4 linked regions of the Homo sapiens genome follow. The protein of the gene in region 1 interacts with the protein of each later gene in a pairwise test. Each region holds a gene or a part of one and is shown on either strand. Other genes may lie near its edges. The genes, in order: SEC22A, RNF5, ELOVL4 and DTX2.

What was found.
Region 2: the proteins of SEC22A (region 1) and RNF5 interact in binary tests that used the Homo sapiens proteins (3 or more experiments, as listed by UniProt).
Region 3: the proteins of SEC22A (region 1) and ELOVL4 interact in binary tests that used the Homo sapiens proteins (3 or more experiments, as listed by UniProt).
Region 4: the proteins of SEC22A (region 1) and DTX2 interact in binary tests that used the Homo sapiens proteins (3 or more experiments, as listed by UniProt).

Annotation. Positions count from the first base shown.
Region 1 is NC_000003.12:123,197,653-123,204,958, reverse strand, and holds the start of SEC22A (vesicle-trafficking protein SEC22a), read right to left. Parts: upstream 3,017-7,306; 5' UTR 2,973-3,016; exon of another isoform or gene 2,825-2,972; intron 1,871-2,824; exon of another isoform or gene 146-1,870; intron 1-145. UniProt on the Homo sapiens protein: May be involved in vesicle transport between the ER and the Golgi complex.
Region 2 is NC_000006.12:32,173,478-32,181,293, forward strand, and holds RNF5 (E3 ubiquitin-protein ligase RNF5), read left to right. Parts: upstream 1-4,927; 5' UTR 4,928-5,034; coding exon 5,035-5,174; intron 5,175-6,063; coding exon 6,064-6,082; intron 6,083-6,173; coding exon 6,174-6,286; intron 6,287-6,338; exon of another isoform or gene 6,339-6,399; coding exon 6,400-6,454; intron 6,455-6,531; coding exon 6,532-6,649; intron 6,650-6,751; coding exon 6,752-6,849; 3' UTR 6,850-7,316; downstream 7,317-7,816. Other genes in the region: AGPAT1 (1-acyl-sn-glycerol-3-phosphate acyltransferase alpha), read right to left, coding at 3,033-3,035; AGER (advanced glycosylation end product-specific receptor isoform 2 precursor), read right to left, coding at 7,666-7,762. UniProt on the Homo sapiens protein: Membrane-bound E3 ubiquitin-protein ligase that mediates ubiquitination of target proteins. May function together with E2 ubiquitin-conjugating enzymes UBE2D1/UBCH5A and UBE2D2/UBC4.
Region 3 is NC_000006.12:79,916,546-79,923,567, forward strand, and holds part of ELOVL4 (very long chain fatty acid elongase 4), read right to left. Parts: intron 5,252-7,022; coding exon 5,080-5,251; intron 3,003-5,079; coding exon 2,875-3,002; intron 339-2,874; coding exon 63-338; 3' UTR 1-62. UniProt on the Homo sapiens protein: Catalyzes the first and rate-limiting reaction of the four reactions that constitute the long-chain fatty acids elongation cycle.
Region 4 is NC_000007.14:76,499,699-76,506,503, reverse strand, and holds the end of DTX2 (probable E3 ubiquitin-protein ligase DTX2), read right to left. Parts: intron 6,064-6,805; coding exon 5,984-6,063; intron 4,300-5,983; coding exon of another isoform or gene 4,285-4,299; exon of another isoform or gene 4,270-4,284; intron 4,207-4,269; coding exon 4,048-4,206; intron 3,079-4,047; coding exon 2,917-3,078; intron 2,149-2,916; coding exon 2,059-2,148; intron 1,131-2,058; coding exon 903-1,130; 3' UTR 513-902; downstream 1-512. UniProt on the Homo sapiens protein: Regulator of Notch signaling, a signaling pathway involved in cell-cell communications that regulates a broad spectrum of cell-fate determinations.

The sequences.
Region 1 (7,306 bases):
GGGTTGTGGTTGGGAAAATCCCAAGGAAGAACCAGTGGAACTGTGGAAAGCAAGAGATTACAACAATTGCATGGGAAGATTTAGGAGTTTTTAGCTTATCGGGGCCATAGATAAATGTTTAGGGCACTGGGCCATTTCTCCTCACCTTTAATACAGAGAAAATATTACACCTGCCTTTGTACAGCAGCAGTTAACTCACAGGGAACCTGAATAGTGGCTATTTTTTCCTCTCCCCATCAGCAACTGTTGGAGGAAAAAGCACAAGCTAGAATCTAGGTAAATCTGGGTAAACTTTTATGTAAAGGCTGAGGAAAATAAATTCCCACAATGCCAAACTACTATAGTAGTGGTTAGCAAGTTCCTGGACCCAAGATAATAAGACACCCCTCTTCTTCAGAACCTTGTAGGGGTAATGACTACAGGCTCAATGTCTCAGGAAGTTATCTCTCAAAAGGTAATAAACAAAGCCCAACATGTAAGTGGATTTTGTATATACGTTCTAACCAAATGCTTTCACAAATGCCACTTTTAAGATAAAAACATTTTATACTGGGGGCAAAAGCACTCATATTTATTTTAGTTCATAACTTCCCAGTCTTCAGTCATCCAAGTACCACTTTCAGAATTATCTTCATCCACCTGTACTATTTACCTAATATTGGTCTTTGAATTGACTTACTTTTCTTGTCCTTTATTTTTTAGCAATAATATCTGTGAAATCAGTTTTGAGATGTTAAGTTTTTCTCCTAATTTAAATTAAATGAACTTGTTTCATTCAAATATGTATGTGTGTGAAAATTTGGGGAGAATTTTTTAATGTTCATTTGCTTATCAAATTATCTTGCATATGTGACAGTACCAAAGTTTGGGAAACAATACCAATATGGTACATATTATTTTATTAAAAGTGCTCGCTGAGGGTGGGGGATAGAGTGGGTGATAAAGGGGATGGAATTTCCGCCATTTTGCCTATGCCTTCTACCTCACTAGCAGTGTTCGACATTCCTATTATGGGTGCTTGCACTGCACAGTATGTATAAGACCTCAGGCTTCACAACAGATTTTACCCACATCTAGGACAGGGCCCCCAATACATGCTCAAATGTGTCAATCCCAACATTTTTATAGTGCCACATAGTTCACGGTTGGGTAGGTAAAACCACCATTTTACAGATGAGGAAACTAAGGCTCACTTTCTCAATGTCACACTGCTAGTATATAGCAGAACTGGTACTTCGGTCTAAGTTTCTAGTATCTCTACATCACTATGCTTCATCAGTCTCCCAAAACCAACAAGACACAAGAAACCAGGGATATAGAAACTATCTATTCACTTGCTGCCTGGGTTCTAATCCTGGCTCCACCATCTACCAGCCATGTAAATTTGGACAAGCTTTGCCTTTCTATATCTCAATTTCCACATCTATATATTGTGGCTACTAATAGCATCTATCTCATAGGCTTGTTTTAAAGATGACAATAGTATCTATCTCATAGGATCATGTAAAGTGCCTGAAACATTGCCTTGTAACATGCTAAAAGCACTACATTAAATATTTGCTGTATTATTTATTGATTACTCTCCATGGACCACGCACTTTATACACATTACCTCATTTAAGCGTTCCAAAAACCTGTGAGATAGGTATTATTAGTTCCATTTTACCTTTGAGGAAATTCAAGCCCAGAAAGCTTGAGGAATTTTTTTTAATCCCTAAACGAGTAGGTGACAAAGTAGGGATTTAAACTCAGGCCCAATTCTAACAACTCTGTGAGACACTCAAGGAAGGTCACAGGCACCCCTGTGATAAGACCTAGGCCTCTTTCATATACCAACATAAGATATACTTCGATTTTAACCAGTTGCACGCAAAAAAAAAAAAAAAAAAAAAAAAAAAAAAAAAAGGCACTAAACAGATGTGATGGTTTTCAACATAGGAAATACCCGAATGTCCCATTACTTTAGGATATGGTCACAGGTGTCAGAGTCAAATACTGAATGAACCTTAATATATCAGAAATTGTAGGTACCGTTTAAGGCATTGCCTGATTCCTTACAATCTTAGCATGTAAGCAAATATCAGTAACATGGAAAGTGATTCAGAGTTTGAAAAGTGGCTGTTCCCCTGACTGAAGATCCCAACATCTCCAGTCTGGTGGCTGATACTTTTGCTCTGGGCTAGGCTTTGCCTTGGCTGAATAGGCATAGGAGGGACTGGTTCTCAAGCTCGCCCCCTGCCCCAGGTGGATGATCCAGGAAACTAAGCAGCAGGGAAAAATTATCTTAAGCTGTCTTCACTGGCAGAGAGATTCAAGCCAGCTGGGGCTTGTCCTTTTCTTTTGGAAGCCTCCTCCACTTGCCGAGCCAATTGCTCAGGTCTCCCTTCTGCCACATCGTTCCCAAAGTGACTCTTGAGACAGGGTCTCAAGAGATTTCCGTGAGCCAACGCGGGCAAATATCTGGGCTCAGGGCTCACTCCATCCCCACAAAACGTAAAGTAAGACACTGGTTCAAGTCCCATTCTGCCTAAAAGAAATAGGAAATGCCACCTCAAGCTCTCATGGGCCACCTACACAGGTAGATCACCGTGTTTCTGACACCTGGGCGCCAGGGAATCCCCACCACCATGCTGACAGCCAAGTGCGACTGTCCCTCCCCTTCAAACACTCCTTTCCTGGCTGCCCAACACCCGAGGCGGCTCAGACGAGGCGCAACCGCCGCCCGCCTGGCCCCAGAGAACCCTCAAGTCGAAGGGGACGGGGTCCCCGCTTGCCCGTCCCTCCAGAGCTCCGCGGCCCCGACTCCCATCCCAAAGGCACGGACTTGGCTCCTGCCCGTGGGGTAGGTCTTCAATCCCGAGGGCGAAGGCCGAGGCTGTGGCGAGAGGCAGGGAGCGGGAGGGGAGAGGCCGGCAGGGATTCGAACGACCCCTAAGAAAGGAAGAAGAGGACTGGGAGGGGCCGGGGAGTACCTGTCGAGACGGGACCCGCCGCTCCGAGTGACGCGCCCCGAAGTGCATTGTGGGGCCTGGGAGGGACCTTTCGGCGACGCTGCGGCGCGTCCAACGTGGCTCGCGCCCGCGGAATCAAACCACGCCCCCGTTCCCTCAGCTCACCCAGGCCAATCGGGTTCTGCAGGAAGGACACAACAACCCCCCAGCTCCCGGGGCCCTCCTTAGTCCCACCCGCTCCAGGAGAGATTGGCAGCTTCTCTCGCACCTGCGCCAGAAAAGTACAGCATCCTCTGATGACAGAACTACGTTGACTTCAGAAATAGGGCCAATCTCTTCCGCTCGCCGCCCTGTTTCTGCAGGCATTTTGTCTCTCACACGCGGCCCTACAGCAGACACTTATAAAGGGGACAGGGAGAAAAGCCCCCTCTGGGTGAGCAAGGAGAAGACCTGGCCCCGTCTATTCCCACACACAAGAAGGAAACTAACCATGGCAGAGAAGTGCCAGATGCTGACCCTGCGACCCCTTCCAGCCTTCGCATCGGTCATGCATTATTAAACAGGCATTTCCTGACTGTTTACCATGTGCCAAGCACCGTGTTAAGCACGGGGTTACAGGAGTGGACATAACACTTGATGGAATTTAAGGAGTAATTGGAGCAAGAGATATTAAAGCATAAATAGTTACAGAACTACAAATTGTCAGTATTGGGAGGGAAAATTAGTGGGTGCAATGATCAATTAATTTTGGACTATCAGGGAAAAGACTTCTGAATAAGTGCCTTTTAAGCGGCAGGCATATTGAAGAGCCTTAGAGAATGTTCCCCGCCAAGGAAATATTGTGTGAGGTTGTCGGGGCATGAAAGAACTTCTTGTGCTCTAGGAACTAAAAGGGAGTCAGTGTGGATGGAGTGTAGGGAGCAAGGAGAAACTTTGCCCGTTGACCTTAAGATATCTTCCAAAATACAGCCTGAAATCTGTAATGTGGCCAATAAGAGTCAGCATGGTCTGGCCCTTGTCTCATCTCAGCCCAAGGTCAATGGGCAGCTAATAAAGACTATTAAGTAGGATCCTATTTGCATATTTAAGAATCACTCAGGCTGTTTGTGGAGAATAGTGTGGAAAAGGGCAAGAAGGGCTGCTGGAAAGCCATTTGGAGGCAGTTGCGTCAGGCAAAGCCAGAAATGATGGGGCTTGAACTAGTGTAATGGGAGTTAGAGACAGAAAGAGGTAGATAATTTCAAGATATGTATAAATTAGAAATGGTATCCAAGGGACTTCATAACGGATTGGTTTGCCGGGAAGGGTCAACAAAAAGGAATATTAAGGATGACTCCTTAAGTAACTAGATGGATTAAGAAGCCATTTACTGACTCATGGAACACAGAAAGAGGAGCAAATGGTTTGGAATATGTTAAATTTGAAATGCCTATAAATGGAGATGTCAAGTAGATTTGGATATGTAGGTCTAGAGTTCAGAAGAAAGGCCTGAACTAACATAAATTTTGTCCTAGATATATACTCAACATAAATGTATTCATATATTCACCAGAAAACATATGTATAAGAATGTTCATGAAATAAATAAATTTTAGAATATTCTGACCAGGCGCGATGGCTCACGCCTGTAATCCCAGCACTTTGGGAGGCCGGGGGCGGGGGTGGATCACTTGAGGTTGGGAGTTCGAGACCAGCCTGGCCAACATGGTGAAACCCCATCTCAACTAAAATACAAAAAAATTAGCCAGGCATGGTTGTAGGCATCTGTAATCCCAGCTACTTGGGAGGCTGAGGTAGGAGAATTGCTTAAACTGGGAGGCAGAGGTTGCAGTGAGCCAAGATCATGCCGCTGAACTCCAGCCTAGGCAACAGAGCAAGACTCCTTCTCAAAAAAAAAAAAAAAAAAAAAGGAAGAAGAATATTCACATAGTAGAATACTATACAGGAAAGACAATAATCTACAACCATATGCAAAGCATGCATGAATTTCACAATCATAAAAATTGAGTGAAATAAGTCAGACACAAAAAAGATTACTATATGATTCCATTTACATAATGTTCAAAATAAAAAATCATATAAGGTAATAGAAGTAAAATATTGGTTACCCAAGGGTAACCAATAAGTTATAATTATTAGTGTTAATAATTAGAAAGGAGCAATAAGGGGCTACTGGAGATCTAGTAATGTTCTTATTGATCCAGGTGTTGATTACATGGTGTTTTCAATTAATGAAGATTCACTGGACTGGATATGGTGGCTTGCTCACACCTGTAATCCCAACACAGCATTTTGGGAGGCCAAGGAGGCCGAGACAGACAGATTACTTGAGCTCAGGAGTTCAAGACCAGCCTGGGCAACATGGCCAAACCCTCTCTGAAAATTGGCCAGGCATGGTGGTGCACGCCTGTAGTCTCAGCTACTTGTGGGGCTGAGGTGGGAGGATTGCTTGAGTCCTGGAGGTCAATATTGCAGTGAGCCATGTTTGTGCCACTGCACTCCAGCCTGAGCAACAAAGTGAGACCCTGTGTCAAAAAAAAAAAAAAAAGGAAAAGAAAAAGAAAAGAAAATTCATCAAGCTGTATGCTATATTTATGAAATTTTCCAGTATGTATTTTACTATTGAATAGAAAGTTTATGTTTTTCCAAATGTTAAGAGCAATCCAGCCATGAATAAATAAGTGATACCAGACTAAACCTTCCACTACAAGTAACGGAAAACTGGACCAAATCTATGAAACAAGTGTTTCCAGGCATTGGACAACTGGCATAGTAAAGTTGTGATCTTGGAAGGAAGGAAAACAAACAAGATGAGTCCCCAGAATATCCACAGATTTCTTTCTGGAGGTAAGCACAGGATAGAAGAAAGCCAAGCAGGGTTTGTTGAGGACACAGAAATTGGAATTAATAGAGATTGAGACAAATGATATTTGTGGGGCAGGGTGCCAGAGAAAGAGCTCCAGAAATATACATAAGGATTCCTGTGAATCTTTGGTATAACTTTAAGGATAGATTGTATGAGGCTGGTAAATAACAATTACTGGGGAAATTTAAGCTGAACAGCTACAAGAACTTGAATAGAGTTTGGAAACATTTAGGCTCTGACTGATTAGAATGGGAAATCTTATTAAATCTTATTAAAACCTGAAGCATTTGGTAAAGAGACCCTAAAAAGGCCACACTTTAAAGCTAAATTAGCCCAATAGTAAAGACTATTCTAAACCCACTCGAACAAAGCTGAAAAAACTGATTTGCAAGTAAATTAACTGCTTTCTTGAATGAAACTTAACAGTCTTTAAAGAAAGACAACAAAATTCAGGTACTTAACCATGTAATATATGCAATGCCTAGTATCCAATAAAAAATTACTACACATGTGAAGAAGCATTGAAACATGAGTCACAAATGGGAGAAGAATCAGTCAATAGAAACAGACCCAGAAATGACAAGGATGATGAAATTAGTTTTCAAAGCAGATAAGAACTTCACTTTTCTTCTTTAATTTTTTTTTTTTTTTTTTTTTAAGTTTTAGAGGGCATCAGCGCACTGGGGTTACAAGCAGGTAAGATAAGAACTTTAAAGAAGCTATTATAAATATGGCCAAGAATTTAAAGAAACATAAATAATGTGATAAATGAAAACCATAAAAAGAACCAAATCAAGCTTCTAGAGCAGAAAACTACAATATCTGAATTGGTAATTTTGCTCTATGGGCTTAACAGCAGATTATACACTGCTGAAGAAAAGATCAGTAAACAAAGTAACAGTGAAAAATAATTATCTACATTAAAGTGCAGAGCGAAAAAAAGTTTAAAATAAAATGAACACAGCCTTGGTGACCTATGGTTAATACAAAGTTATCTAACATGTATAATCAGAGACTCAGAAAGGAGAGGTGATACAAAATATTTGAAGTAATAATGGCCAAAATTTTCCAAAATTTGATAAAAAATATAAACCCATAGATTCAAGAAAATAAACTAGGCCAGGCACAGTGGCTCACACCTGTATTCCCAGCACTTTGGGAGACCAAGGTGGGCGGGTCACCTGAGGCCAGGAGTTTGAGACCAGCTTGGCCAACATAGTGAAACCTTGTCTCTACCAAAAATATAAAAATTAGCTGGGCATGGTGGTGCATGCCTGTAATCCCAGCTACTCGGGAGGTGAGACAGAAGGATCTCTTAAACCTGGGAGGCAAAGATTGCAGTGAGCCGAGATCACACCATTGCACTCCAGCCTGGGTGACAGGGTGAAATTTCATCTTAAAAAAAAAAAATGTATATATACAAAAATTAGCCAGGCAGGATGGTGCATGCCTGTAATCCCAGCTACTCAGGAAGCTGAGGCAGGAGAAT
Region 2 (7,816 bases), on another chromosome or scaffold:
CACGTAGCAACCACAGAGATTTTTCTGTTAGCACAGATTTTTCTGAAACACAGAGCATTTCCCTGTCTTGCCTAAAGGCTCTTCTTGATAAGTTGACTTCTGCTTACATCTTCGACCACATCCTCACAAAACTCTTTGTTCCAGTCAAACTGATTCACTTCAGTTCCTCAGACACCATGATCTTTCATGCTTCCCCACCTTGAACATGCTGTTCCCTTTGGCTGGAATGCCTGTCTCTTCTCCTGCCTCACACAGCTCAGTGTCACCTTTTGGAGGGCTGCCTGAACCCCTCCAGGCCTGTGCTTTCCTTACACTTTTATCTTGATCAGCGGGTCTCGAAGTATAGAAATGCAAATTATTAGACTTCACCCCAGATCTACTGAATCAGAAATTCTGGGCATTAGGTCCAGCAATCTGTTTTTCTTTTTCTCACTCTGTCACTCAGGCTGGTTTTGAACTCCTGGACTCACGCGATCCTCCTGCCTCAGCCTTCCAAACTGTTGGGATTACAGGTGTGAGCCATCGTGGCTGGCTAGCAATCTGTATTTCAACAAGCCCTCTGGTGAGTCTGATGTGCGCCTGAATTTAAGAACCACTGATCTTGACAACACACTATGTGTTGACTGGCGTTTTTGTTTCCCTCCTTAGGCTGTAAGCAGCTTAAGGACAGGGACTCTGTCTTATCTCCAGTGCCAGGACAATAGGAGATGGAGTAGGTGCTCAATAAACACTTGCTGAACAGATTCTAAGGCTGTATACCCACCCATAGAGCCACAGTTAATGACAGAGATGGCGGTTCTGATCACAAATTAGATAGTTATCCTCTTGAGTAGAAGTGACTACTAAAAGAAGTCACTGAGAAAGTAACGAACACACCAAGCCTAATGGTAACCGACTCTGAATAGATACATGCAATACATAGCCATAATGAAGGCAGAGTAACAATAATCAGGAAGAGGTCATCTCACAAGAGAAATGTACCGAATGGGATCAAGATGCCACAGGGAAAGATGCTGCTCTCATCAAATGTGTGCCAACAGTGCAAAGAATGGAGGATAATGTCCATAAATAAATACCAACAATGGGGTTCACAGCAGGATTGACCCTGTGACATGCATTGAGCTCATGGACACAGACTGTACACAGCCACTGGAAAGATAATGTTTGTGTAGAGAGGTATGGGCCAGGGAGGTCACCAAGGTAAGGCATGCAGGGATGGTTCTTTGCAGACCTGGAGACCCAGTTACCTTCTTCTCTTAACACTTGATATTAAGTGACCCTCTTTGGAGAACAAAAGTCCAAGGATTTAGAAATGCAATGGAGGGCCAAATTTAATGAGCATACGGCTCACAAAATATACTGATGACAAATTTATAACACACATTCTATGGTCCTGTTACATCAGTGTATCATGCAAAGGCGCATACACATGTGTTCTGTGAACTGTGACTGGGAAAACACAGCAAACAGGCCAATTCAGTCAGACATCAGAGTGTGGGGTATTCAGCCAAGCCATGGGATCCCACACATGAAGACTACTGCAAATGGTAGGACCATGGACATGTCAGCCAAAGCAAAATAAGGTATATAACCTTCACATGCTGAAATAAACATGCCAAAACATAAAATGTGCAAGTAACATGAAATTATAGAACAGGTGCAATATATGAAAACTCACACACATGCGGTACTTAAAACATGTCAAAACTGGATGTGAGACATGGACACAAGAATGAAGAATGGGCAATTCTGATAGAAAATAACACACCATTTCTACACAGCCTATGGATAGCATTGGGACAACCTAGTTGCACACAAGCCATTAAACATGTCAAAGGCACACAGACTCAATGTAGAAAACATGGCTCCCATAAGGCATTTGTGTGTCAGTAAGGGTCTAGCAGTGTGGAAGGCCACTGAGAAACAAGAGGTCCTGTGCCTAGATGGAAACAGAGGCACCTAAGGGTATTCCTAAGAGGCAAATTCTGCTGGCCTTCTCCCCTCATGACCCTTCAAGAGTCATGTGGGGTCAAAGGGCAAGAAAAGGAATTGGGGAAGGTGTAGGGAATTCCCTCTCCAGGATTCCCTGTGCACGCTCCCAGTCCCAAATTCACAAGGGTTTCCATTTCTCCTCCCTCCCAGGTCTCTTCCATCCTTCCTCCCTCTCAGGTCCCCTCTCCTATCCCCAGCAACCCTCTTCCCAGTCGGCCCCTCTCCTTTCCCCAGCAACCCTCTCCCCCAGTCGGCCCTCCCAGACCCAATCTCTCCCCTTCCCCTCATCCTAGTCGCTTTCAGCACCCTCTTCCCTCCTCCTCCCATCCCTTTCCCGCCCACACCTCAGAGGGGTAGGGGGCCTGGGGGGCTGGCCCCCTCCCCAGCCAGGCTGCGGCAGCGGTGGTGGCGGATGGCTGTGTCTCTGTCTCTGTCGGGGTGTCGGTGCCAAGGGGGCGACGGGATTTGGGGGTGTCCTAGCCCCGGCCGATGGAGGGGAGGTGGGAGTGGGAGGTTGGGCCCATAGCGGTAGGAATGGTGGGGGGCTGTCCCCCCAGCACCCTCCCTCCCTCCCTTTCTGCTGTCTCTCTGAGGGCTGGGGCTGCTGCCGCCGCTATTCCCCCGCCACCCCTCCCCAACGCCTGCTGGTTTCCGGGGCCGGCCAGGAAGTGGAGGGCGGTGATGGGCAGCCTGTTTTGCCAATCGTCTCCCAGAAACTCTGGCATCTCCTCCCCACATCTACCAGTGTCCTCTTGCGAGCCCCGCCCCAGGGCTCTCCCTCGGTCTTTGCCCCCATCTCTGGCTCCAGCTGCATCTTTTTTTTCTCTAACTCCCTTTCAGCTCTGGATCCCCTGGTGCTGTATTCCTCCTTCCGCACATTCCTTCCTTTATTCTCCATCAGCTCTCTTTTAACTGCCACTTTTACTTGGTCTCTTTTTTTCTCAACTCCGGTTATCTGCTGCTTATTCCCCCCAACTATTCTTAAGGACCCCTTTTCCCGTACCCATTCAATTCTAAACATTTATCAAGCATCTACCTACCATATGACAAGCATTAAGTTCACCTCTCTTCTTTTTCTCTCCAGGACTCCATCTCACTCCATCTCACTCTCCAGTCCTCTGGTCTGGTTTCCTTTGCCCTTTGTCCCTCACTATCTCCCAGCAGTCCAGCTCCCCCCTCCACCTGCCTTCTCTGGCCTTTAAAGAGAAGAGATCTCTTTGGCCTTATCCCTGACCCTTTCCTTTTCCATGCTCTTTTACCTCTGTACCTTTTCTTTCCTACTTCCTTCGTATCAGTCTCCTTACTTGCCCAAGCTGAGACAACCCCTTCTCACAACATACAATATGGGTACATCTTTTCTTCCAATGGAAATTTGGCTTCAGGGGTGCTTTCTAGAAAAATAAAAAGTGAGGAAGAATGCCGATTCCTCTGGAATGCGCGTGCCTCCTTAATTTGGTAGCCATGTATCTAGTTTTCCACCCCCTCTTCTCTTCCTCCACTCCCATTATCCCTTTACTAGGATCATTCCATCACTTCACTCTCCTTCATTTCCACCTTTCCCTCTCAATATCTTCCTTCCTAAACCTCAAGCTTCCTGAATCCTCATCTGCCCCAGTCCTTCTTTACGCAACTGCTAACTTCTCATCTTTCCTTACTCTTGAGTCACATGGGATCTTTTATCAAGGTCCCCCCTCTAGCCACACCTTTACCCTGCATTAGTTTACATGCCCTCGGGAAGAGGATTGGTAGTGGGAGGACTGTTACCTAATTCTGCTCCTTTAGTCACAGTGAGGGTCAGTGATTGTAGGAAAAGCCCAAACTCCCCGGGGTCCAACCTGGGAAGAAGACCCTATTTCTGATGGGCAAATTATAAAGAGGAAAGGGCGGGTCTAGCCTCCGCGGGTCTCCTTAAAAGGGGCGGGCTTTGTCCCTTTTGCACCACTCACAAAGGGGTTGAGCCCAGAGCTTTCCTGCTCTGAAGGTTTAAAACGGAGTTGAAGTCAATCCTGTTCTACTCTGTGTACAACATTAAGAAAGGGGTGGGCCTTTAGTTCAGTTTTGCTCTGTAAATCACCTAATATGGGGAGGGCTGAGTCGTCCAGCCGAATGAGTTGGGTTAACACCAGCGCCGCAGATCGATGTTCCCACTATCCAAACGTCGGGCTAATCCCAGTTCTGCTCCCTTAACTAAAAGGGAGGGGCAGACCCAAGTTCTGCTCTCTACGTCACCAAAGGAGGTTGGAGCCATTTTGAACCCTGCGACCCTAGTGTTTTCCCTCTTTTCCTAGCTCTTCGCCGTCTTTCCCGATGTCGGCCAATCAGGGGAAAAGGAAAAGGCCCAATCAGCAGAAAGTCCACAGCTGAAGGACCCGGATGAAGCGAGCCTAGGACTTTGAAGTGCAAGCCTCGCCAATTGTAGAGCAGTCACCATGGCGACAAGATAGGGGTGAAGAGGTGGAAAAAGAGAAGGTTAAACCCTCACAGGATTGGCCCACCCCCGTCCCGCCGCGTGCTGCGCAGGCGCGTTTTACCTAACCACCATTTTCCGTCAAGTTTTAGCCAATGAGTTGATTTGGAGCCATACGCTCCAAAGTCCAATAGCAATCCGGACATTCTCTAAAAGAGGAAGCGAAGGAAAGAAAGGGGCTTATAGTGGGCGAGGTCTATAGGTAGTCCCGAGCAAATTGCTTATGGCTTTGGTTATGACTGACAACTACTCAGACGAATAAAGCCCTCCTTGGCCAGGCGACAGCGTGTAGCGAGTTATTACCAATCCCTTGGCATTGCACATTGACTTAGACCGTATCAGCCAATAGCCATTGTGCGAAGGCAGGACTGCACTAACCTTTTCCCGCCCCTACCCTTTGGGCCAATCCTTTCTTTTGAATTCTTTGTGACTGGCAGGCATTCAGACCAATAGTGATTAGGAAACCTTGAAGCCTGCCCAACGATCGTGGGCAGGAGGTGGTTTCTGGTTTGTTGGGGCGTGTGTATGTGTATTTGGGGGGACTGAAGGGTACGTGGGGCGAAACAAAACCGGCCATGGCAGCAGCGGAGGAGGAGGACGGGGGCCCCGAAGGGCCAAATCGCGAGCGGGGCGGGGCGGGCGCGACCTTCGAATGTAATATATGTTTGGAGACTGCTCGGGAAGCTGTGGTCAGTGTGTGTGGCCACCTGTACTGGTGAGAATCGAGGAGGGGGGCGGGAGGTGGTGGGTCTCGCTTATATACTGGAGAGGCTAGGAGCGAATAATCATACAGTCATACAGATAATCGGAGGGCACGTTCCCATAGGTGAAGCCCGACAGGAGACATAAGACTTTGCTGGTATGTGTGGGTGGGAGTATAACGGTCGAGATCTGTGGAAAGAAAGGTCTTAGGAACCAGGAGCTGAGGCACGTGATGTGCTGAGAAGAGAAGGTGGGGCGGGGAGTGGCAGGACAATGTGAGACCCGAGCCACCTTACCCCAGAGAAGTGAGGGGTCTTAGCTGTGCAGGTGGAAACAAGTGAGACACAAAGGTTAAGGGAGGCACGCATCAGTTGAGTCGGGGAGAACCAGGAAATATGGATCACATTCAGATGAGATCTGGGAGGGGGCTGGTATAAGGGCACTGTGGAGAGGCAGACTTGAAAGGTTAAAGGGTCATAAAGATAGGGACATTATTGAGCTTGAAAGTGAGTAATGGGGGAATGTGCTAGTAAAGGGGTTTGGTTTGGAGTGATGGGGTTGGGGTTGAAAAGAGGAGACCCAGAAAGAGGTGGCTGAAGGAAATTAGAAATTAACTTGAAAGGCAGAAAAGAGAGGGCACGAAAATTTGTATGTGTTTGTTGGGGAGAGGAGAAAGGAGAGGGTTGAGTGTGTTGAGGATGGACAGAGCTTTAGGTGTTGGAAGATCAGACAAGCAGGAAGGCTAACTAAGTTGGCTGGCATGGTAGAGGTTGCAGAAAATCTGAAAAGCAACAGCAGGTTGCTTGGGAAGAGGGGTTAGATGGGATTCTGCGAAGTCTAGGGTCTGTGTCTCTCTTTTCTGTAGCTAGTTTGACCTTTTTTTTTTTTTCTCCCCCATCCAGTTGGCCATGTCTTCATCAGGTGCGTACTCAGGAGATGAAGAGGGAAATGGGGAGGTCTGAGGAGCTGTAAGACCCTCTTGTATACTGGAAACCACCTTTTTTCTCCCCAGTGGCTGGAGACACGGCCAGAACGGCAAGAGTGTCCAGTATGTAAAGCTGGGATCAGCAGAGAGAAGGTTGTCCCGCTTTATGGGCGAGGGAGCCAGAAGCCCCAGGATCCCAGGTGAGAGACTGGAGGTGTTGCTTAGGGAAGATTGAAGGCTTCTGCCCTTGGAAAACGGTGTGGAAGATGGGAGGAGAAAAATCCCTGTTAACTTTCTCTCTCCACTTCCTCAGATTAAAAACTCCACCCCGCCCCCAGGGCCAGAGACCAGCTCCGGAGAGCAGAGGGGTGAGTCTTCTTGTCCAGTTGTGTCCCTTCCTTGACAGATTTGCCGGCTTCCTGTCTGACTTTTTCTGCCTCCCTAGGGATTCCAGCCATTTGGTGATACCGGGGGCTTCCACTTCTCATTTGGTGTTGGTGCTTTTCCCTTTGGCTTTTTCACCACCGTCTTCAATGCCCATGAGCCTTTCCGCCGGGGTACAGGTAAGAGTCACACTCAGCTCCCATCAGGGAGCCCTGTGAATCCCCTCAGGCCCCCTCCCAGCCTAGGAGCATATGCTTCCACAGCTTTCCTCTCTCCCACAGGTGTGGATCTGGGACAGGGTCACCCAGCCTCCAGCTGGCAGGATTCCCTCTTCCTGTTTCTCGCCATCTTCTTCTTTTTTTGGCTGCTCAGTATTTGAGCTATGTCTGCTTCCTGCCCACCTCCAGCCAGAGAAGAATCAGTATTGAGGGTCCCTGCTGACCCTTCCGTACTCCTGGACCCCCTTGACCCCTCTATTTCTGTTGGCTAAGGCCAGCCCTGGACATTGTCCAGGAAGGCCTGGGGAGGAGGAGTGAAGTCTGTGCATAGATGGGAGAGCCTTCTGCTCAGAGGCTCACTCAGTAACGTTGTTTAATTCTCTGCCCTGGGGAAGGAGGATGGATTGAGAGAATGTCTTTCTCCTCTCCTAAGTCTTTGCTTTCCCTGATTTCTTGATTTGATCTTCAAAGGTGGGCAAAGTTCCCTCTGACTCTTCCCCCACTCCCCATCTTACTGATTTAATTTAATTTTTCACTCCCCAGAGTCTAATATGGATTCTGACTCTTAAGTGCTTCCGCCCCCTCACTACCTCCTTTAATACAAATTCAATAAAAAAGGTGAAATATATTGATGGGATCTCTTCCCAAGTTCGCCCCCACCCCCGACAGAAGCATCTTCTCCCCAACTTGAGTAGATGTTTGGTATAGTATGGTGAAGTATGGGGGTGAGTCCCTTTCCTTCAGGGCCCTCAAGGGTATAGGGGTGAGGTTGTGTCTCATACACACACACAGACACACAAGAGCAAGATGTGTCAGGTGTTTAATCATCATTGTGGGGGGCTCTGGTTGTAGAAGAAAGCTTGGCAAGGTGGGGTTATACAGGAGAGAGATTATACAGGAGAGAGTTGGTCTGAGGCCAGAACAGTTCAAGGGAAAAAGAAAAGGGAGCTGATGGATGGGATCTGTCTGTGGGCCCCTCAAGGCCCTCCAGTACTACTCTCGCCTGCCTCAGGTTCCTCCGACTGATTCAGTTCTGCACGCTCCTCCTCTTCCTCCTGGTTTTCTGGGGCCTTCCTGAGGAGAAAGATTGGGGGGAATGCGGCACGTTGTCGTTCCACCCCCCGACCC
Region 3 (7,022 bases), on another chromosome or scaffold:
GAAATTTTATATGATATGGGAGTTTTTCCTCACTGTCAACAACAGTTAAGGCCCAGTTCAATTTAATCTCCTTTTGCTTTTCCATTTTTCTGCTTTTTTCCATTTTCTATCATGAGTTGTTTTTCTGATTTGCTCACACCATTTGCTGAAATACCATTCATGGCTGTTTTTCCAGCTTTTGGTTTCTTAGGCTCTTTGTATGTCCGAATGTAGAAGTTAAGAAAGAGAAATATGAAGCTGATTGCATAGGCAATTAGAGCCCAGTGCATCCATTTGGGGAAGGGGCAGTCAGTGTAAAGAGACAGTGCCGTGTGCCCAATGGTCACATGGAATTGAATCTGAAAAACAGAAATGACAGCACAAAACATTTAATCTGAATAGTAAACAACTTTTAACAACATCGGCATCTTCTACATAGCTATCACAGGCCCAAATTTTGCCACACTGTGCAAAATTTATTGTTTTCTGGCTCCCATGGCTAGCTCCTCATTCACAACTCAAATGCCATCTCCTCAGTAAGGACTCTCTGACAAGACTTCAATTTCAATTGGCCCTCCCAATCCCATTAACCAAAGAGCTTTCTGCATTTTTTTTAAGGAGAATTATACCTATTTGAAATTGTCTTCTGTATTTGTTATTTCTTTATTGCCTATCTTTCCACTAGAAAATGACTCTAGAAGGCAGGGCTTTGTCTTGCCCATCGGTGATTCTTGAGTCCTCAGCACAGCATCAGGATCAATGAATATGTGTTGAATAATGTTATCTGATGAAAGGGAATCAATGGCCTAGGAGAGTAAAGTAATAGTATTGTAGGCTCTTCAATTTTGTTTTCCTCCCACATTTTACATTGGTTTCTTTCTATCAAATTGTCAGCAAGCAGATACACATACTTAAAATGAGCTTATCAAAATGGCTCATTTATTTCTTACAGATAGTAGGCAGGTAAATTTTTATTTGAACGAACACTATCCTTTAAAAACTAATATTTTGATGGCCAGGTGCGATGGCTCATGCCTGCAATCCCAGCACTCTGGGAGGCCGAGGCGGGTGGATCAACTGAGGTCAGGAGTTCAAGACCAGCCTGGCCAACATGGTAAAACCCCATTTCTACTAAAAATACAAAAAATTAGCCAGGTGTGGTGGTCCATGACTGTAATCCCAGCTACTCAGGAGGCTGAAGCAGAAGAATAGCTTGAACCCAGGAGGCGGAAGTTACAGTGAGCCCAGACTGCACCATTGCACTCCAACTTGGGCAACAAGAGCAAAACTCCGTCCCAAAAAAAGAAAAAAATAATATTTGGATAAAATTTAGTAGATATTTCAGAATAAATACAAAAAGAATCACTTTCAACTTTAAGAATTTTTAAAAGGAAAAAAGCCCAAAGTGAGATGATTAAAATGAAATAGATTCTGATGTATCAATAAAAGAATGGGTCAAGACATAATGTTAACAAGGGTTAACTTTTTATACAATTAACTTATATGACTAACTGTTGTGGGAACTTCTGGCTTGGAAATACAAACTCAACATCCTGTTTGAAATGGACAATTGTGGTTTCTCTTTTAAGGATAGCATTGTTCTTAAAATATTAATTATTGATTAAAATAATCAGTATTACTTATTTTAAATATTAAAATAATGTATGCCATGTAAGCTAAAAATTTATACTATATTAAACTTTTATAATTTTCCTTGGCAAATATTTTAATTTGAAGAACTTGTGGTTTCACAATGGTTTTTAGAAGCTGCATCACCAAAAAGGGTGTGTATAAGGGTGTGATTGGGTATGGCATCACTCAAGGAGAGCCAGGTGTAGGCTCCAACAAACCAGATAGGACTAATTCACATGATTTTGATCACCTCTTCATTTTCTTAGGTCCATTTACTACTTACTGAGAGAAATGAATTACACAAACTGTGTTAACAGCTTTTACACAAAAACTGGAGGAAGCTTCCTATACCACTCCGGTTACAAATGAATCCTTCGCACCCAGCATTTCCCAAAAGTTGTGCTTCCTGTTTGGTTAGCCAGCTGTTTAGCAACTTAAAGCAAAGATGAATATTATTTCCAAATGTGATTCCACTGATAAAATTGTGCACATGCTATGATTAAAGCAAATTATAATAAATTCTAAAGCTTGAAAAATAGTTACCAGGTTGGCTTTGAATTTCCAGTTTGATTACAGGCTAGTGCCTAGCATCTGAAAGGTACACTAATGCACACACTCAGATTGCCACAAACAGTCTTACTAGCGGGATGTGCTGAAAACTGTCTGGACTAAAGACCACCATTTGAAAATATCTGTCTCTGCTCTCTTAAGGACAGTGTTTTAGAGAATTACAAGGAGTTCTCTTGCCCTTATTCCCTTCCTTTGCCCCACCCCTTCCTTGGCTATGTGCTTTCTTTTCAGCTGTTTAGTCTAAATATATGAGATATGTTAAAGACTGAAAAATGAAATAAAAAACAAAATTTTTAAGCAAGGACAAGATGAAGAAAGGTAATAAAATTTTAAGTTAAGAAAATCACCTGTAGGGAAAAAATACATATTATTTTTCTATTCATACTACGTACTTTGTAGCGTGCTTAGATCTTTAATCATCCTTTCCACAAACATCTTTAGAGAATGTTTTCCTTAGAGGAGTAAGGGCTATGTCTAGTCTTTTAAGCATATTATAAAAACAAAGATTTGCTGGGACCAATAAGTCTATGAATAGGTCATCTAGAGTCAAGTGGGCATAACTGCGATATAGCTGGAGGATAAAGTTAATTTCATAATAGAAAATTGTCTAAAATGACATTGCACTTTAAAATTAATCAAATTTAAACAATTTCAGTATTTTACCAGAAGAAACTTTGGAAGCATTTAACTCACCAGTTGCAACATAGTCAGGTATCGTTTCCACCAAAGATATTTCTGAATCCATGGGCCAAATGCAGTTAACCCATAGTATGAGTACATAATCACATGGATAAAGGAATTCAACTGGGCTCCAAAAAATGCTTTAGAAAAACAACAGGTAATTACAAGATACAGAAAATTTTATTAGGCAGTAAGCCACTGAGATGTACAATAAATGAATACACATTATTTTTTAATATTTAATCTTGAGTACAGATTAGAAATGAAAAATATAAAGTAGTACTAATGAAAAAGTTTTCCCTTCAGATTAAGCTAGATATTTTTAAAGTTTAGATTTGAGGTTTTACCATATAAATAAAAATGTATGTTCAAATGCAAAGGACTTTCACAGTTGTAGGTTTTCAAATGGAGTACTCCAGTGAGCTTAAATAGGCCCTTAGAACTGTTGCCTATGTTACTTTTAATTCTACTATTCTTGCCTTTAGATGTGCCAATATATATATCTGCAACAAAACAGTACTTATTTCTTAGGTTTCTAAATAGTTTAAAATATGACAGCACTACACACATTGAATAATTCATTTAATATAGATAAATCTACAGAGATATTCCAGTCAGTCAAACTCAATGACATTCTTTCTTTTCAGAATATTAATTTAATCAAGGTATAGATGTAATAATAATTAATTTTTGTCATAAAGTGATCTAAGTCAGTTCAGATTTACTAATTTTCTTTTAAAATTACAGAAGTTGCCTTTAACTGTATTGTTTTAAACTGGGCCCCCAATAATATATGTATGAATTCCTAAGCTGCCAATTATCATAATATGACAATGGAAAGCAGCAAGGTGAACTATACTATAATGACTTGTACCCTGGATCCTCCTCAGAGGAATAATCTGCATCAAGCTCAACAATGTGAATCATCCTTAATCTACAGGCATCTGAAAAGACAGGAGGCAGATCTTGGCCAAGCTATGAATTTAGATCCTCTTTAACATTAACAAGGCTATATAAAATTTCCTTTGAATAAGAACCAACAAGACCTATACAGGCTGAGTATTCCTTATCCAAAATGCTCAGGACCAGATGTGTTTCTGATTTCAGATTTTTTTAAACTTTGGAATATTTGCATAGACATAATGATGTGTCTTGGGGATAGGACTCAGGTCTAAATCCAAAACTTCATATACACCTTATACATGTATCCTGAAGGTAATTTTATAAAATTTTAAAATAATTTTATGCATTAAACAAAGTTTGTGTACTCTGAACATCAGAAAGCAAAGATGTCACCCGTGTGGACATTATCTGTGGTTGTTTGGCATCAACATTATGCTGTACATGGAAAAGGGCTAAGAGGGTCTTTTTTCCCTTAGGTATACTGAATAAAGTGTGTTCTGCACTTGTGTTTTGACTGTGACCCATCACATGAGGTCAGGTGTGTAATTTTCCACCTGTGGTATCATGCTGGTGCTCAAAAAGTTTTGAATTTTGGAGCATTTGGATTTCAGATGTTTAGATTAGGGATGTTCAATCTGTATTAGGGCAGGAGTGAGCTATGGGCTAAGATGGAAATCTTCAGATTTGAGGGGCTGTGTCTTGGTATTCTTTGGATCAGAACTACTAGACCCGTTCCCCATCAAAATATTGTTTTCTACCTTTAGTCTTGGTTTATGCTCATCTCTGGGGCAAATCTTTAGGTATTAAAGTAGTCACAGATAAAAAGCAAAAGTTATACTTGCCTCAAATTTTTTAAAAAATGAAATGATGGCTGGGTGTGGTGGCTCATGCTTGTAATCCCAACACTTTGGAAGGCCGAGGCAGGCGGATCACAAGGTCAAGAGATCGAGACCATCCTGGCCAACATGGTGAAACCCTGTCTCTACTAAAAATACAAAAAATTAGCTAGGCGTGGTGGTGTGTGCCTGTAGTCCCAGCTACTCAGGAGGCTGAGGCAGGAGAATCGCTGGAACCCGGGAGGTGGAGGTTGCAGTGAGCCGAGATCGCGCCACTGCACTCCAGCCTGGTGACAGAGCGAGACTCCATCTCAAAAAAAAAAAAAAAAAAAAAAAAAAAAAAGAAATGAACATGGAAATGATTAACCATGAAAGCAAGTTAAATGGTAGATCAAGTCAAAGTCCTAGGTTCTCATTGCTTTCCACTGAACACATATATGCAATTAAACGCAAGCAGTATATTCCTGAAAATGCTCACCTTGTCCTCCTGCAACCCACTTAATTCCAATCCACCACAAGGTAAACATCGTACAGTGATGATACACATGAAGGAAAGAAACTTGGTTGTTTTTCTTTCTCAGAATAAAAAACACTGTGTCCAAATACTCAACTCCTTTAGATACAAAGTACCACCACAGAGCAGCAGCTATCTGTAAAAAGGGAAAGCGTGTTATAAACACCAAAATGACACTATTGTATGGGTTTATACTCATTGTAAGTAAGTCCAAAATAAACATTTGTATATTGCACAAAATGTACAAGGCATGGAATCATTAATGGCTAAGTAGGTTTGAAAAACCTAAGCATCTCTCCATGGGGAAAAATAGAAAAGAAAGAGTCCAAAGCTCTATCTATACAGTGCCAATAAGTTAGAGAACATTTTCTGTCTATTCCATAGGTAGATGTTACATAGTGTCAAACTGCTGAATACAGAGCTGGAAGCACATTCAGACTGCTGTGCTTTTCAACTTGGTAGAGGAACTAAGATGTTTACTTTGTAAAATGATTTTAGTTGTTCATGCTTAGCCTACATTATACTACCTCAGAAAAACTTGCAAGTAAGTTCATGTAGCAACTGGTCTCTACAAGTGTCTGCCTGTCTGCCCACCCTCTCCCCTCACCTCCCTCTCTCCCTCACCTCTCCGACTGCACCAATATGTGCAACAACATAAATATCCAATCACAGCAGTTTGTATTAGGTATTAAATCTTTAAAATAAAAAATTGGAATGAACAAACAAATATTTCCCAGGTCATAAATATAATCCTGCTTACATGAATAAGTCTTTTCTTTTCCTGGGCTCTAATTAAGGCACCAGATGGTACAGAAAGATTACATTACATACTGAGATTAAGGATCCAGTGAGAGGTGACCTCTGTATGTTTTAAAATGTTTTACAAGAATCCTACTGTAACAGTAAACCAAACTTAATTTTTTATGTCAAGTATTTTCTATGATAAGCATCCTATGTGCAAATAACAATTAAGGCAGTACATAACTAAAATCTATTTATAAGCTTTCATGTGTTAGGGCCCTGTCAGATTCATTCACAGACAGGCTTAGGTGTTTTAGAGTTGAAGGATCCCTTTGCATTTTATACCTGCACCTGGTATATGTCATGAGATTTTTGTTTGTTTTGGCTTTTGCATTTGAAAAACAAAATTATAATTTTAAAGTATGGGGAAAGAAGAAACAGAAAGCATATAAGAAACAAAGTATTTACAAACTGAGAATTATTTACTGAATTTACTTGAAAAATATCATTAAAAATGATATGAATTGGTTGAAAATAAGCTTGAAATAGTTAACTACTCCCAGCAACACTATAGTTAATATTCACTATTATATTAGTTCTTTAAAATAAAGTAACTGTCACCATTTTGGCATCGTAACCTTTAACTAGAAGGAAAGATACAATCTCTTATTTCTCCTCTATCTGGACCTCTACATTTGCCACAATTCACATAAAATAACAACAAATAAGTCTGCTTAGTTTGCAAACTGCACTAGATATCTTTAAATAAACTACACCAAAAAGTGATACTTCTTGGCTACGTAACAATGAATACAGAAATGAGTCTCTGCGTAAAATATTCACTCTATTGCATCCCATATTAGAGAGGAGAAGAGAGCACGAGGAAGATTTCAAATGAAATCTGTTGCAAATCTCAGGTTCTTTATCCTCCTAGATTACAGTTCTCATAATAGCTCATTTTTTAAAGACTTGAAAATTTACATCTGTAAGTGAGAGTGGTATTTTTAAACCTTTATCCTAAAAATAGTAATATGTTGCCCCACCCAAGGGTTTTTCTATGCATACTCCCAGAAGTCAGTCAGTCAAACACTTATCCCTGTTCCCTTCCCTACGGCAAGCAAGAAGTCAGCCCTCCAACTGAAGAGATTCTTTGGCAATAGTTATCA
Region 4 (6,805 bases), on another chromosome or scaffold:
ATTAGAGGCGTGAGCCACTGCACCTGGCCTAATTTTTTTTTTAGAGATGAGGTCTTGCAATTTTGCTCAGGCTGGTCTCAAATGTCTGGACTACAGTGAGCCTCCTGTCTCGACCTTCTGAGCAGCTGGGATAACAGGCATGCGTCACCATGCCTGGTTCAAGTCATTGCACCTTTGAACCTGTTTCCACATCAGTAAAACAGAGACAGCAGCTCCAATCCTAAGTGAATGGCATTTTGTGAACCACAACCCCAGGGCCACAAAGGTGACAGCTGGTGCTCTGGGGTGACAGCCTCTGGCATGGCAGGGAGATCAGTGTAGGGCATGTGGAGGCCGCACAGCCCAGTACCGTGGGCTCCTCCATGCCTGGCTGTGGCCTGTTCTTCAGTTATCAAATGGGAGCCGATGAGCCCATGGAACCCCCTCTTGCTCTGATGCAGGAAGTGGGGGGGGGCACACACACACACAAGTGCGCACACACGCATGCATGCACACACTCAGGACCTGCTGGCTTTGGCTATAGAGCATTTATTGCAAACAAAATTGAGGTAAAAGAAGCTGACCCAGAACCCACGCCCGTCCAGGCTGGGGAAGTCTCTACTCGCCCCACACCAGGCCCCGAGCACCGCGGGCCCGAAGCAGCCCCCAGAGGACAGACGGGCCCTGCGCACTGAGGTAGCTGCATCCTAAGCCCCCATGAGTACAACTGCCCAGGGCTGCCCAATTCCCAGAGGGGAGGAGGAGAGAGAGGCAGGCAGGGGGAGCCCCGGCTTCAGGTGGGGCACACCCCACACCCTCAACAAACCTCCCAGCCTCTCGGGCTGGGCACTTCCTGCCTGGCCACCCAGCCAGCCATGGGGCAGCGGGGTGGCCACCAGAGGCGGGCGTGCTGGGGTGCGAGGTCACTGCTGCTCCAGGCAGTCCTCGGTCACCCCCTGGGCAGCCAGCTCAGCCAGCACGTTCTGCAGGTAGTTGGGGTCGGGATAGCCGTGGCCCGTAATGTTGCGGTCCATCTCTGTCTTGTGGTGGATCTCGTTCCATACCACGGTGTCCGTCTCACCCGTGGTGCTGGACGTGCCCACTGTGAAGATGAGCCGCCTCTTCCAGGCCACCTTCAGGAGCTCTAGGACCTGCCCGGGGAGGAGGAGGGGGAAGAGGAAGGAGGGGACGGAGAGTGAGAGGGGCTCAGTGAGCAGGCACGGGTTGGCACCATGTTCTTCCCATCCCAGCCCCTCCCAGGTGACTCATCCACTCCCTGGCACTCACCCCATCTGCAGGGACCCCAAAACTGCCCACTGGATAGTACATTAGGATCCCACATGAACCTGGGCTCCAGCCCACCCCGCCTCAGTGCCTGGCACTGCCATCCGTTTGGTCCTGATGCCCAGGCACCATGCTCGAGTCCTCCCTGCTTCCACAGCCGTTGCTGGACGAGCGCCCGCCCACCCACCCTCCCTGGTGGAATCCAGGCCTCCCTGCCCTCTCCCTGCCCTCTCCCCGCCTCCAGCTCCGCCACCTCAAGCCCATTCTCACACGGCCAGAGCTTTTCCAAAGCTCCATCAGCAGCTCCACCTCCGTGGCTTCGCTGGGCGCTCAGAACCAGCTCTACCCCTGGTGCTGGCCTGGGGGGCACCCTGTCTTCACACCCACACCACGGGCTCCCACTATCCTGCCTTCCTGGAAGGCTCGTCCCCAACCTTCTCTGCAGCCACAAAGTCCCTATTCATGTCTCAGTGCAGACACCACTGCTCCAGCCTTCCGTGGTCACCTGGTCTAACACAGCCCCCGGTCCCTGCCTGTCACACTCTGACTCTCAGGAGCTCCTGACCCCACCCGGCAGGGTGCTGGAAGGTGATGGCCTCTCCTCCTCCCTCGAGGCTATGTGAGGTCCAGGCTGCCCTCCCTGTACCTACAGCAGGTCCCCAGAAAAGAGCAGCAGACACTCGGCCCGGCCTCAGCCTCTGTCCTCCGCTGCAGAAGCAGAGTCCAGTGTGGCGCCTGGCCTCCTGCCGCCTGGTCAGGGCCCCGTCCACCCCCCGGGCGCATGGTGGCACTCACCTTGCGGCCCTGGGCGTTGTCTGGAAGGTAGCACTGGCGGGGAAACCCTCTGGCAGTGAACGGCTTTCCGGGATTGGGGTGCTCAGGGCCCTGCGGGAGGAACAGACACCAGGATAGGGTGCTCCGAGAGCCCGCACAGGGACAGGCCCCTGCACAGCTCCAGCTCCTCCCCCGCTCCGAGATGCCAACCCCGAATGTTCCTGAATTTCCCTCTGAGCTGTGGAGAAGTGGAGGGAAACCAGGGGAAAGGCTCATGGTTCAACAAGACAAAAAGATGCCTCCATCCACCACAGGTGGACCTTGGCTGGCAGCCAGTGCCCGCTGCCTGCTGCCCCGTTATCTTCCCACCCTGCCCCAGGCCCTACGATCCACCTTGGCTCAAGACAGGAGACCGAAAGGGCTAGGGCCCGTCTGAGTCTCCTCTGGGACTCTGGGGCCTTGTGCCTGGGCTCCTGACACCCACACGCCTGGCCCTGCCACTCCCAACCCAAGGTTCCTCGACGCACACCCTGCTGTGGCCCCGCTTCTCCAGCCCCTCCGCAGGGTTCCTCCCACTGAACTGCCTGCCCTTCTGCCCAGAACAAGTCCAGCTAAGATGGCTCCTCCTCTAGGAAGGCTTCCTTGGTTCAGGAAAGAGTGGAGGGCCAGCCTTTTGCTGCCACAGCCCTAAGAGCTTACCCTAAGCCCCGGCACTGCCTCCCCATTCCCGGCCCTCCATGGCTCTGGCCTTAGGGGACCTGGGGGCCTGAGCTTGGCCACATGGGCATCCTCAGCCTTGATCCAGGGGCAGACTGCTGGGATGTGGGCGGGGTGGGAAGAGGAGTGGCCAGGAGTGGGGGACTCAAGAAGGCCCCTCACCTGGATACCATGGGGAATGCTGTAAACTATGAGGATGGTCCCGCAGTCCTCGTGGCCGGGGAGCGACATCTGGAACCGTAATACCTCCATCTTTCCCTGGGGCTGGGTCCCCGTCTTCTCTCCATAGATGGTTTTGCAGGAGGGACACTGCAGACTTCCATCCTGACAGAGGCAGACGCAACCCACTGAGCTGGCAGTCTGAGAACACCCAAGACCGTCACCTCCACCGTCAGATGGTAAAGGGCCCCGGGAATGGGCTGGCCACCATCCCAGGGAGTTGCTGGCAGCCTCCTGCCCGGAAACTGGCTTCCAACAGCTTCCCTGGAAAGCTTTGTTTTGCACCAGCAACTCATGCCATTTTCGTTAAGGGACATGCTATCAGGAGACAGGTGGCGAGTGGGAAAACTCGGATCCTGAGCAGAAATCTCCACGGGTGAATCGCATTTGCAGTCGGATAGACAGCCTTGCAGCGTCTGATCTGCGGAGCTGGGCCCTGGCTGCCCAGGATGGCAGACACTAGGGAAGGCCGAGCCAGGCTCCGATGCGCCACATGACTCGGTTCTCTAAGCCTCTAAACTCTGCCCATCCCGCCTGAAGGCCGATGCAGGGAGAGCAGCTGGGGGTCAGTCTGGGCGCGGCTCTTCATGTGTAGGCTGCTGTGGGGCCCAGGATCAGCCCTGCCTCAAGGCCTGGCTCCCACCTCCCAGTGGGGTGACCCTGGGCACAGCCCCTGCTCTGAGCCTCTCCCTCATGAGCACTGTGCTGACTGCACAGGGATGCTGTAAGGAAGAAGGGAGACAGTGTCTGCGGTGCTTACAAGTGGCCGAGGGGGAGGCGGTGCCCTGGGGCTCAGAGAAGCCCAGAATCTTCTCAGGCCTGGCTGGAGGGGTGGAGGGAACCAGCCGCACTGGTCCTCCTTTCTAAAGTGTGGGGCAGACCTAGAAGAGTAGGGCAGGCCTAGGAGAGCCGGCCAGGCCTTTAGAAAGGTCTTCAAGCTGGCCCCACGCCCAGCACCATCTTTTGCAGAGGCCCATTCCTACAGCCACCCCCGGAACCCTCCCGCCCCTGCAGGGGACAGCTCAGGACTGTGGGGGCGGGCCACCCGCCTCCGCCCTGGGCCAGTGGGGGCACCTTATTGCCGTTGCAGTACATGGCCAGGAGGCACAGCAGGTGGAAGGCATGGCTGCACTTGGTGAGGTGGCCCACAGCTAGGGACCCGATTGCCTTGCTGTCAGTCACATCGCTGTATCCAGACGCTGTGGACAGCTTCTCCATGCAGATGATGCAGTCCTGGAGGAGACCAAACATGGGTCATGCTCGCCAACAGTGGGCTGGGCTGACGTGGGCCAGTCTTGGAAAAAGAGGCTTTCATGTGCTGAAATGCTGGAAGTGCAGTCAAAGTCAATTCCGAGGCCAGGCGCAGTGGCTCAGGCCTGTAATCCCAGCACTCTAGGAGGCCGATCACTTGAGGTCAGGAATTTGAGGCCAGCCTGGCCAACACGGGAAAACCCCATCTCTACTAAGAATACAAAAATTAGCTGGGCGTGTTGGCAGGTGCCTATAATCCCAGCTACTCGGGAGGCTGAGGCAAGAGAATCGCTTGAACTCAGGGGGCAGAGGTTGCAGAGCTGAGATTGTGCCACTGCACTCCAGCCTGGGTGACAGAGCGAGACTCCGTCTCAGAAAAAAAAAAAAAAAAGTCCATTCCACAGGCTGGAGACACAGGTGAGTCACCGGGACCTGTGCCTCTGAAGGGCTTACCAGCAGCACAGGCCCGACATGACAGCAGAAGCCACCAAATGGGGAGGACGGACAGGGCAGGATCCTGGGGGAGGCCCTCGGCGTGGGGTCTTACAAGGGAGACAGGAATTGCCAGATGGACAAGCACAGAGTGGGCACCCGGAAGAGGGAGGAGGACGTTCTGAACGAGGAGCCAGCTCATGGGCACTAAAGCTGGCAGGGGGTGGGCTGGGAGCAGGAGATGAGACAGGATCAGGGAGAGGCGCGCCCTCGGGGGTCTGGCTGCCACACTCAGGGGCTTGGGGCTGTGTGTGAGTTGGGGGTCCTGCTGGCGGTTCCAGGCAGGGAGTGCTCCCATGATCCAAGCTGCGTGCTGGCTGTGCAGACGGCAGCTTGGAGAGGAGGAGCCTGGGGTGAAACGGCCCAGTCACACCAGATGGACACCAGGGCCGAGACAGAGCTGAGCGCTGGGCAGGCGGGAATGTGGCAAGGGCTTGTGGAAGGGGTGGGACACATGAGGAGGACGTTCAGGCTCCTTTCCAAACCTTTACTTACCAGATTTTTCTCATGGACTCAACAGACTGGAGAAAGAGACAAGTGAAGAGTCCCTGGGTACTGGGGCTCCTGGCCTTCCACCCGCCCCCAAGTATCTGAAGATCTCTGGGTACTGGTACTCCCGGCCGTTCACCCACCCCCTCCCCCAACAGTATCTCCAGGGCTCCCAGCTAAAATCAGGGGAAAGTGGTGCTGCAGCCCCCAAAACGTGGCTCAGTAGAGGTTCAGGTTCTATGGAAGCGCAACAGGAGTCTGATTGGTCCTGTTCATTACAGGAGGTCAGGAGGACAGGGCTGCAGTGAGCTGTGATCACGCCACTGCACTGAGCCTGGGCGACAGTGTGCACCCGTCTTTAAGAATAAAAAAATTATAAGAACCTTGACCAGCTCTCCCAATAGCCGGGGGGCAGGACAGCCACCTGGACGAGGCCACCTCACTTCTACACCAGCATCCGCAAGGTGGAGAGTGGGGCAGGCTGGCCCATCCCTTGTCTCTGGAATTCCTGCTCCCAGGATGGCCATCAGGCTATGGAGAGGCCAGGGCCGGGAGAGGAGGGGCTTTGCTCAGGACCACAGCTCCTTAAGTGCAAAGCTCAGACCATAACGATGTGGGTCTCGGGAGGCTGGGAGATGAAACCAAAGGGGCTGGAGCAAGGCCCTGGCACCCAGAGGCACCTGGGAAGCACCCTTCAAGCAAGATGGGGCGGATGTCCTTTCCATGTGGAGTTGTTTCCAAACAGAAACAAAGGCAGCCAAGGTCCCAAGACACAAACCTCATCTGGGGGCACTTTCAGCTCTTCCGTGTAGTTTTTTATGACCTGCTCTGGCTCTGGCTCTGGCTTCGGGGTCGCTCCTAGAAGAGAGAAGTACATAAGCAGCGTCCTGAGGAGCACAGGCTGGAGAGGAGGCCAGAGGGCGAGGAAGGGAAGGAAGAGGTCTAAGCTGCCAGGAGGAAATGCGAGAGGGGCCCAGACAGGGAGGCCAGTGTGCGGGACGGGAGAGCTCAGCGCCAGGCACAGAGCCCCGAGCTCCGTCGGGCAAAGCCTTCCCCAGTCCCACCGTCCGGGGACCCGGCTCAGCCCCAGGAGCCATGGAGGATGCAGAAGAGCAGAAACAGCAGCACAGTCTCCTGGGAGCCGCATCCCCGCGCACATTGAGTGAGGAACCGACCCCGGCGCTTCTGAGGCTGCGCGGAAGAGTCAGACAGCCGCTTCGGGCACAAACTACTCCAGGGGGCGTTGTGGCACCACGATTTGATTCAACTTGCATTACCCTGGCATGAACATCACAGGGACAAGGGAGTCTGGGGTCCAGCATGTACAGGCAGCTGCACACACGCCGACCGCCACACAGACACTGTCCCGGGAAACGCCTGCCACTGACTGGGAAGGTCTGTCACATGCAGACTAGCTCCTAAGTCCAGCGACTCTGGGGAGGGGCCAAGACGTGGCAGGAGCCCACCCTGACGGCCTCACTCGCTGTCTGTGCACACGTGCACGAAGCTGGAGGGAGAAGGGCTGCATCTCCATAAACACCGAACCCCACATCCAGTAAAGCCTCTCCTACGGACAAGAAGCTCCTGAGCTGGTGAGGAT